Homo sapiens: one gene and its partner. The protein of the gene in region 1 purifies or fractionates together with the protein of each later gene. This does not show direct contact. Each region holds a gene or a part of one and is shown on either strand. Other genes may lie near its edges.

Region 1 (3,285 bases):
GTGCCCCTGGGCTGCCAAGACTCCTATCCTAAGCCTGGCCTGACAACTCCATGATCAAGAAAGGCATTGCAGGCCGGGCGCAGTGGCTCGTGCCTGTAATCCCAGCATTTTCGGAGGCTGTGGCGAGCGGATTATTTGAGGTCAGGCGTTCGAGACCAGCCTGGCCAACATAGTGAGACCCCCATCTCTACTAACAATACAAAAATTAGCCAGGCATGGTGGTTGGCATCTGTAATCCCAGCTACTTGGGAGGCTGTGGCAGGAGAATCGCTTGAACCCAGGAGGTGTAGGTTGCAGTGAGCTGAGAGTGCACCACTGTACTCCAACCTGTGCCACAGAGCAAGACTCTGGAAAAAAAAAAAAAAAAAAAAAAAAGGGCCCTGCAGCGCGACGGGCTTAACTCCTGGACTCACAGGTGGACTCCATGTCCCAGCCTCCCCCACAGCGCCACATGACCACATGACTGCTGGGTGCTGGCCTCTGGAATGTGGGCAGAATGAGGTGCCACCCTGGGCCTGGTCCACAGAAAGCGGGGGGACACCTCCTGCCTGCACTCACTCCCTGGCTGCTGACTGGGTGCTGACACCCTAGGGCAACTGGGCAGGGTAGGGTCTCTGGGGCTGGGTCTCTGCAGGAGCGCCTGGAGCAGAGCCCCACGCCCACTGTCACCTCCTCCCGAGCTGAGGCCTACGTGAGAACGAACACGTCTCTGGAGTTCAGCACTGGGATTTCGGGGTTTATCTGTTACAACAGATGGTGTCACCTCAACCAATACAGGTTCTTGATTGAAGTAACTTGAGAGGCACCCCCTCTCCCAGTCATCCTCCATCGGTGCTGCCAAAGGGGGAAAGGCCACGGGAGATGTTCGAGCTCAGGGCCTTGGTCCCCACCTCCCTGCCATGAATTCTGCAAGGAAAGCGCTGCTCGCGGGTGGGCCTTCTCTGGCCACATCCTCCCTGATCAGGCCATGCTGGCCAGTCCTCCAGATAGGATCCATGTTCCTGCCCCAGCCTCCAGCCCTATGTCGAGACCTGAGGGTTGGGGGTGGGATCACAGGCAACCACTCGTGACTCATTCAGGAGCACTCTCTGGGGGGTTGGGAAGCAGGCCAGCCGCCACCTGGTCCTGGTGCCACAGCTGCTCAGCAAGGCCATTGAGTATGTGGGCAACGTCGGCCAGCCCAGCCCGCCCGTCCAGTGTGCGCCCATCAGCCAGCCGCCGCCCCGGCACACTCTTCACCCGTAGCAGGGGCAGCTCCCAGGCCTGCCGGAAGGCTGTGAGGTCCCGCTCGGGCACGTCCGTGTGCATGTACTGGTCAAATCTGGAGGAGGGTCAAGGAGCCTAACTGGGTGCCTCTGCACAGCCCCCCATCAGACCCTGCCTCTCCCTCCTCCCTGGAGCCCACACCCAGGAGCTGGGGTAGCCATGCTGTACCCTTTAAGTAAAAGCCCAGGTGCTGAATTCCATGCCTGGGCAGAGGCTGGGCCCCTGACCCCCTGGCTCCGTGACTTGCCAAGGATATCCAAAGGATACTTGGAGCCGATGACCATCCTGACGACACCAGGGGCCTCACCTGCTATGCGGGCCAGCTGTCCAGGGAGGTCTTCAAAGGAGGCACGGTCAGTGAAGGAGAAGAGGAAGAGGAAGGCATCTGTGTTCTCCATGCAAGCCTGGTGATGGAGAGGCATATAACCATGTCACCCCCCATCAGCTGCAGGGCCCTCAGAAGAATCAGGAATAATCCCTCCTTTCACAGATTGGGAAACTGAGGCCCAGAGCAAGGAGCGGCTGGTCCTAGGACAAGCATGGGCTGGGACTGTCTCCAGTGCCAGCTCAGGTCTCTGAGCAGTGCCTTGAGCTCATTAATACCCAATCGGCCCCTGGCAGAACCCACCCAGGCCCACATGCCTGCTCACCAGCAGCATATGATCGAACTTTTTGAGTGCAGACTCTCCACAGTCCCAGAACTCAAAACGAAACATGACGACACGGCTGCTGGCCTGCAGCTTGGCTGGCCAAAATACCACGGTGGTCTGGATGCCTGAGGGGGAGCCAGGGTCAGCCACTCACCATGGGAGAGGTGGAGATGGGAGGAATAGGGGACCAGGAAGGAATAGGAAGAAGAGATACATCCCTGCCCTGATGGGTCCCTAGTTTGATGAGGGAGGCACAGTCCTTGACCCGGGATAATTCTCAGTCTGATGGGAGAAACAGAAACTGGCCCTGGAGGAGACTCTGGTACACCAGGAAGATGCAGCCCTAGCTATGGCAAAGCAAGTTTCGTTTGTATGTCCAGGGAGACCCAAAGGGCCCAGGACGCTGGGAGATGTTTCAACATGGTGGAACAATCAGCATCCAGTGGTGAGAAACAACAAAGCAAGATTAGCATTTCCTGAGCATTTACCTTGAGCGTAGCTTGATGCTAGGCATGTTACCACCACCACCACCTCTAGTGGCAACCACACAACAACCCTGTGGTACTATTATCCCCTTGGGACCAAGGAGCCCATGTAGGCTCAGAGACGTGAAGTGACTTTCCAAGGCTACAGAGTAAGAGGTGGTCCAGGGCCAGGTTCTTGCCTCCACCCCCAAGGAGGGCCTCCCAGGATGGGCAAAGGATAGAGGTCCCACTCACCGGTGGTCTCGTGGTGCACCACAGGCACCTCCAGGCCAGCCAGCTTGGCCACCAGCGCCGTCTTGCCCACACCACTCTTCCCGGACACAAAGATCTTGTAGCTGGCAGTGTCAATGGACACAGGCGGCAGCAGCACTGGCCGCTCAAGCAGCCCTAGGGCAAAGAGAGAGCCAGGCAGGGTCAAGGGGTGCTGTGGTTTGAAGGTGTCCCCCAGAGTTCATGTGTTGGAAACTTAATCGCCAATGCACCAGTGTTAGGAAGTGGGGCCTAACACAAGGTGATCAGCTGCCCTCATAAATGGATTAATGTTGTTATTGAGGGAGTGGGTTTGTTATAAAAGCCAGTTTGGGCGCCTCTTGCTGTCTTGCTGTTGCCCTTCTGCCTTCTGCCACGGGATGACACAGCATGAAGGCCCTTTCCAGATGCTGCTGCCATGTTCTTAGACTTCCCAGCCTCCAGAACCATGAGCCAAATAAGCTTCTGTTCATTATAAATTACACAGAGGAGGCCTGGTGCGGTGGCTTACACCTGTAATCCCAGCACTTTGGGAGGCCAAGGCGGGCAGATCACCTGAGGTCAGGAGTTCGAGACCAGCCTGGCCAACATGGTGAAACTCCATCTCTACAAAAAAAAATACCAAAAATCAGCTG
Region 2 (7,293 bases), about 190 Mb from region 1:
TTGAGCTCAGGAGTTTGAGACCAGCCTGAACAACATGATGAAACCTTGTCTCTACAGAAAAATACAAAAATTAGCCAAGCATGGTGGCGGGTGCCTGTAGTCCCAGCTACTCAGAAGGCTGAGGCAAGAGAATCACTTAAGCCCGGGAGGGGGAGGTTGCAGTGAGCTGAGATAGTGTCACTGCACTCCAGCCTGGGCAACAGAGTGAGACCCTGTCTCAAACAAACAAACAAACAACAACAACAACAACAAAAACCCTGAGGGACTTCATGGGGCTTCATGATCTACTGCTACAGAACAGAGCACAACTCCTGTGCATACATGTGGAAGGCCATCACCCAGAGGAAACAAAGGAGACCAAATGGGGTGCCCCGTTAGGAGCCATAGACGCAGAGGTGTCGTGAGTGACACTGAGCCTGCCCTTCAGGGCTGGGGGCTCCCTGAACCTTTGAACTGTCCTTCATCACCACCTACTGCTCTTGTTATTTATTTATTTGGCAAATGTTTGCCGACCATCTACTACATGCCAGGCTCTTTGACAAGTGCGGGAGACACAGCCATGATAGGGACAACCCAGAGCTGTTCTGGAGCTACACAATTAACTCCTTTTCTGAGAGCCTCAGGAGCTTTGCATTCTTCATCTTTAATCCTCACACCCGCCACCAGGCAGGCATGAGTATTCCTGAGGAGAAAACAAGGCACAGAGATGTTAAGTAGTTTGTCCAAGGCCACACAGCTGGCTCTCCATCCTGTGCTCTTCCCTACTGGTACCACACTGTTCTGAAAATAAGCAGAACCCCGTTATAGAGCTAGACGTTTCCGAACTACCTGATGGCCGTAAGGCGTATTTAGGATGATCTGGAGAAGAACTAAGAAACCTCTCTGTCTTGGAGGCTGATCAGGGCAGCCTCTGGCTTCAGCTCATTGTCCCAACCAGAGGCCCTGAGTGGAGGTTCTAGGTGAGATATGGAAGGGATGAGTGTCAAGCCATTTTGGGGTGACATTTTACTGATGAATGCAGGGTGACATTCTCTCAATGCAGGCAGCAGTACTACTTACCCAGTGCCAGAGAACTCTGCACCTCGGGTGGTTTTCCTAGAAATGAAGTTGGGCTGCTATAGCTAAAACCATGGGTATTTATTGACCACCAAGTATGTCAAAGCATAAGGATAGGGCTCCCTCTTTGAATGCTGGACACAGCCAGTCACCACCCTGTGACTCTACACCAGGGGAGCTGGAGAGGTTCTTAGAAGAGAGGTTTCCCTTCCCTAGGAAGGCTTCACAGATGTGGGGCATCAGCAGGGCCAGTGGTGTGCCTTGAGGCATGCCTGAGACCTGGCCAGGGTACAGTGAAGGGGACAGTCTTGCTGGAGCAGACCCTGGATAGGGGCTGGGGAATGTTCATAGTGGAGCCGGGTTATTAGGTTAAAACATATGAAATTTCTGGTTTTATGGCTGAAAAAAGGTTGACTACAGACATTTCCTATGATTCAACCTAATACCTGCCCTTGGACATCAGGCTAAGCTGTTTAAACTTGAACCTGAAGTATGGAGAAGCCGCTGATGGTTTCTGAGCTAGAGAACAACACAGTGAACTGGGTTTTAGAACCACTTATCTAGTAAAAAGGGTATGAAATTTTAGATGGGGGAACTTGAGGAAGAAAGCCAAATATGGAAGTCCCTTGCTGCCTTTAAAGTGATCAAGATCAGGAAATTGGTGGCTATAAGAATGGGAAGAAAGGCTAGATGTGAACATTTTTGTGTAAGAGCCAGCTGGACTTGGGGATGGATAGATGGATGGATAAATGGATGGATGGATGCATGGATGGACAGATGGACGGACAGACGGACGGATGGATGGACAGATGGATGGACGGATGGACGGACGGACGGACGGATGGACGGACGGATGGATGGATGGATGGATGGATAGGATCATGGCCATTGTCTTCCATTTTCCTAATACCAGACACAAACAAGAGAGATGGCAAGGTAGGTGGGAAGCTTCCCCTCAGGGAATAGGGAGGAGTTTTTCCTCAGTGGAGAGATAACATACCTGCTAGGACATTAACTGTGACCAGGGGCTCACTATTCTCACATGGGGCAAATCCAGTGGGTGTAGCCTTCCCTCCTCTGGAGGAGAGGAGCTGTTCCCAGGGGTATTCTCCAAGTGGGCCTGGGCTGCCTTGTTCTGGCTCTCCAGAGGGCAGATGAGGCTGTGGCAGCTTAGTGTGCTGGGAGGAATTCTGAGCCCCCTCAGCAGGGCTCCCAGCCCACCCCGTAACCACCCCCACTGCCTATTCTTCACAGGATCTGCAGTGAGGACATCGAGTGCAGTGGGCTGACCATCCCCAAGGCTGTGCAGTACCTGAGCTCCCAGGATGAGAAGTACCAGGCCATTGGGGCCTATTACATCCAGCATACCTGCTTCCAGGATGAATCTGCCAAGCAACAGGTAGCTGGTTGCATACCTTCCTCCTTGGTGGGCCTGCGGAGGGCCTGGGTGTGTCAGCCTGACTCCGCTTTTAGAGATGGGTGAGGGCATCTGCAGTTGGCTTCTCTTGCCTTGCCCAGCTGCCAGGAGCCTTCGCATTGCCCAAGGTTAGAGCTGGGCATCTTAACTTTCTGCAGAGCAAAGCCCTCTGTTTAAGTGGACATTAGGCAGGTACAATTCCTCCATTGGTCATGGAAGAGACTTCAATGCCAGCCACGGGTTCAACAGAAACCCCTTTTCTCAAATCCCACTAAAGAACATGACTGCTCCTCACCTCTCAACTCCTGCCCTCCTACCTGCTTCCTCTCTCCCACTCCCCTTCTCTCTCCAGGCATCTTACGGTAGAAAACAGGCCTGTTGATGCCTCCAAAGCTTTGCTGGCAGGAAGGACACTACAGGGTTCTTCAGTTCAGCCCAAGGATGTAGTGTCAAAAATGAGTTTCCCAGAGTCCCGGATAAGTTTGTATGCATTTCTATGTCTGTGTTCTGCTTTAGGGTTTTGAAATGTATTTACATCCACTCTCTTATCAGGTCCTCACCATCATTCTCCAGAGGAAGAAAGCAGGACTCAGGAAAGAGGAGGGACCCTAGCTGAGGTTCTCCCAGCTAGGATATGGGAGCTAGGATATGGGAGCTAGGATCTGAATCCAGGTCTTTTGCCTCCGGGTCTGGGTCAGTTATCATGACCTCACACTGCTTATTTATTTTGGTTGACTTGAATATTTCTGAACTGATAGATTTTTTGGTCTGAAAAAAAAAATCACCTTTGAGTAGAGAATAACTAGATCAGCCTCATCTCCCTTGACCAGGCAGCGTGGCAACTCTTTCCTGGCAGGTCTATCAGCTGGGAGGCATCTGCAAGCTGGTGGACCTCCTCCGCAGCCCCAACCAGAACGTCCAGCAGGCCGCGGCAGGGGCCCTGCGCAACCTGGTGTTCAGGAGCACCACCAACAAGCTGGAGACCCGGAGGCAGAATGGGATCCGCGAGGCAGTCAGCCTCCTGAGGAGAACCGGGAACGCCGAGATCCAGAAGCAGCTGACTGGTAGGACAACACGGCCACCGAGAGCCAGCCTGAGGGCTGTGCAAGGCCACTGGCTATGGCCCCAGGCTGGGGTGCAAGCCTGTCTCTCCAGGCTGGGCCAAGACACAGCTGTGCAGATTTGGCCCAGGGCTAATATCCTGAGAGTTTAGTGACACTGGCCTTGGCCCAATTAGGGGTGTCCAGAGGGTGACCTTGGGTGGTGTGCACACACAAGGGGTCACCATCTTTTTGAGGTTAAAGAGCAAAAGGAGGAAGGCTGATGTCCAGGCAAGATCCATATTCCACAAGCCCTGGGATTCCCAGGTGATGGAAAGAGAGTAAGACTGAGGGGAGAAGGGGTTAACAGGCCTTAAGCACCTACCCTGTGTTCAAGAAATATGGTAGGCACTCAAGGTGGGGGGCACAAGAGGAAGAGGTCACCGTGAAGACCTAGAATTGGGCTGGGAAGATCAGACCATGTACAGAGTAATGACTGATAAGTATTTCTGGCATAACTTTCAGATGGAAAAGAGACAGCGTTAGAAGACTCCAAGTGCTAAAATTTATACTAAAAACCACTGATCAATCAAACGTTTTTTGATCACTTTCCACATGCATAATTTTGGCCTTGACAGAGAACTCTGAGATGTTCCCTGCCTGCAAAGAACCTTCAGTCTGGTTGGGGCATTGAGAAATAGCCTCATGACACAGACAGACAATAGGTTCTACAGACCAGGGCTACCTGGAAAGCGACATTTCAGTAGGGCCCATTTGCCAGAGTCCAGGCTGGGGCTGTTACCTCGGTCCCTAGGGCATCCTGAGCCTGGCACAAATTGGGTTGATGGTCTCTGACCCCCAGGGCTGCTCTGGAACCTGTCTTCCACTGACGAGCTGAAGGAGGAACTCATTGCCGACGCCCTGCCTGTTCTGGCCGACCGCGTCATCATTCCCTTCTCTGGCTGGTGCGATGGCAATAGCAACATGTCCCGGGAAGTGGTGGACCCTGAGGTCTTCTTCAATGCCACAGGCTGCTTGAGGTGAGAGAAGAGGATACATGGGGTCTTTTTGTCCCAGCCTTGGGCCCTTCCCCAGGCAGCCCCATCTCAGCCAACATTCAGCCGGTGCATAGAACATAACAGACAACCCGGCACTCCCTCTTATGGGCAGGCTCCAAGACACAGGGACTCAGGCCTTCCTAACTTCCCTGGAACTGGATAAGGCCCAGGACCCTACCACCCCCTTTGAGAGAATGCAGCGGACATTAGTCAGAAATCTGAGCTTGAAAATGCCTAGATCTGAATATCCAAACTGGTTCAACCATTTCCCTCCTCCACCCCATGAAAAAAAATGCATTTCTTGTGCTATCATCTTGAAGAGTGTTCTTTTAGACAAAAGTCTACCGATGGGTTGCTAATGAGTCACTTCCCAGCTGTGGTGTTAAAACCATTTGCCATGTTCATTGGCATGAAGATGGCACTGCTTCACCCAAAGTTGCCTAAGTTCCATACCAGGGTGTGGCAAAGCCCCTGTGGGGCTGGTGGGAGGGCTTGTTCTAGAAGCAGTGGTTTACAAGCTGGCGAAATGGGTGGGTGTGGAGGGGCGGCTGGTACAGGGCTTGGAACCCTGGAGCAGGATCCCTTTTAGGGTCTTTAATGGGGTTTGTCTTGCTTTAATGGGATTTGTCTTTCCCAACTCCTGAGAATCCCCCCAGAGTGGTGGGTGCAGCTGGCATGTGCCTCTGTGTCTCAACTTGTGTTTCTCCCTGCCAGCCTCCGGTAGCAGCCTCCAGGAAGCAGAGAGGCTGGGGAGATGAAAAGTGAGGATAATTAAGAGTTTTATGGGGTTGATGTGCTACTGGTAGCAACAGCAGCCACACCCCACCTGCACCAGGCTGATGAGCCCACATTGCTTGGGGATGAGCCCACATTGCTTGGGAGTGAGCCTACTGCTGGGGGCAGAACACAGCTTGGGTGGAGAGGGAGCTTCTGGTGCCCAGCCCGGCCACCCCCAGATCCACTTCTGATCCAGCATCAACAGGGCTTCTTCCTGTCCCACAGAAAGAGACTGGGCATGCGGGAGCTTCTGGCTCTTGTTCCGCAAAGGGCCACTAGTAGCAGGGTGTGAGCCTTGGGATGCAGCTGCGGAGGGACCGTTGCCACATGGAGCCATTGCCAGTTATAAAGTTACTGGGCAGAGTGAAGGAGGAGAAGAACTGAGTGCAAATGAGACCTCATTTCAGCCTCAGCCAGGGCCAGGCGGAATTGGCTAAATGGTTTCTCTTTCCTTCCGTTTTCATCTTTTCCTCTCTTCATTCCTTTCCTCCCTTTCCTCTTCTCCTTCCTTCCTTCTACCACAACTTCCAATCTCCACCCCGTCGTCTCCTCTCTGCCCTCCCCTCTCCTGCCTGTTCTCTCTCCTGCCTGTCCCCCACCACACTCTCTTGTCCCCACCTTCCCCGTTCTCTCTTCCCCCTTTCTCTGCCCTCTTCCACCCTCTTCTCTCCCCCAGGAACCTGAGCTCGGCCGATGCAGGCCGCCAGACCATGCGTAACTACTCAGGGCTCATTGATTCCCTCATGGCCTATGTCCAGAACTGTGTAGCGGCCAGCCGCTGTGACGACAAGGTGAGTGCATCCCCTGGTGGCACCCTGACCCCTAGGCCCAGCCCCCTACATTTTCTGGGTGCCTTTGAGGCCTGGCCCAGTGACAAGACAGGAGCACAGACTCAGGGGTGGTAGAAGAGGCATCTGGATGCAGGGCTCAGTGGTGGCTACAGGAGTGGGCTCTGGGGACAGCGTGCCCATGCAAATCCACTCTCCCTCACTTAGAAGTGGAGTAGATGCAGCTGCTTCCCTAATCTCTCTGTTTCCCGGTTCACTCTTCACTCTAATGGAAAGGGTCATAATCATATCAACCTCAAGGGTTGTCTGAAAGGCTTGATTAGTTAATAAGCAAAACACGAAGAGGGCCTGGCACAGAGGAAGCTCCCAGCGAGCATCTGCTGGCTGTGCTTCATTGGTGGTGCTGAGGCCTGTCCTGTGACCCCGAGCCCTGCCCCACAGCCCAGAGGAATCCATACTGGTGCCCCCAGGGCTTAGTGTCCCCCCTGAGATGAGGCTCCTTCTGCCACTGCTATCTTCCCACTGCCTCCCAGAAAAGCCATTGGCAGTCATCTTGCTGCCCTCTCTGGACTTCTGGACACACAGCACAGACAAACAGAAAGAAAAAAAGTTGTGGAGGGCAGATAAACAGAAGGCTGAGATGTTCCCACCATGGCAGGACAGTGGCTCAGGAGATAGTGAGGCCCAGCAGGCTCCAGATCGCCAGGGAACGGGCTGACATCACAGCACCTGGGTTCTCAGCACAGTTGCCGTAAGGAGGGATTTTATCTCCTGCTCCCTCCACTGGAAGCAACAGCAGGGCCACAGAGGAGAGCCTTGTCACTGGGCTGCTCAGCCTGCTTCCAAAGGGCAAGATGCTTTTCTGCTCTGTGTGCAATATCTCCAACACCTGTGTAACCCCAAGCCCTGGAAGTCAGATTCCCTTAGACCCCAGCAAGGGCCAAACATCATTAGGAGGGTAAATCTGCTGCCCCCAAACCCTAGTCCTTTGGAGGTTTGCCAAAGGAGATTGACAAAGATCTGAGCCCAGCTGCCATGATGAAGCCCTGGGCTCCAGGTGTTGCTGTGTTTTGTGTGGACTTAGCACCGCTGACATTGACAGCTAAGGACTGGCCCCAGGAAGAAAGAATGATGGGGGCACTAGATGGCTTTGGAAT

What was found.
Region 2: the proteins of CPLANE2 (region 1) and PKP1 purify together in Homo sapiens (affinity purification with mass spectrometry; 2 studies listed by BioGRID and IntAct, with this or other methods). This does not show direct contact.

What each region holds. Positions count from the first base shown.
Region 1 is NC_000001.11:16,230,977-16,234,261, forward strand, and holds the end of CPLANE2 (ciliogenesis and planar polarity effector 2), read right to left. Parts: intron 2,789-3,285; coding exon 2,636-2,788; intron 2,042-2,635; coding exon 1,917-2,041; intron 1,671-1,916; coding exon 1,534-1,670; coding exon of another isoform or gene 1,523-1,533; intron 1,322-1,522; coding exon 1,072-1,321; 3' UTR 716-1,071; downstream 1-715. UniProt on the Homo sapiens protein: Required for efficient primary cilia initiation, regulating a late step in cilia initiation. Plays a role in the final maturation of the mother centriole and ciliary vesicle that allows extension of the ciliary axoneme.
Region 2 is NC_000001.11:201,314,243-201,321,535, forward strand, and holds part of PKP1 (plakophilin-1), read left to right. Parts: intron 1-2,310; coding exon 2,311-2,455; intron 2,456-3,329; coding exon 3,330-3,537; intron 3,538-4,375; coding exon 4,376-4,553; intron 4,554-5,573; coding exon of another isoform or gene 5,574-5,636; intron 5,637-6,024; coding exon 6,025-6,139; intron 6,140-7,293. UniProt on the Homo sapiens protein: A component of desmosome cell-cell junctions which are required for positive regulation of cellular adhesion.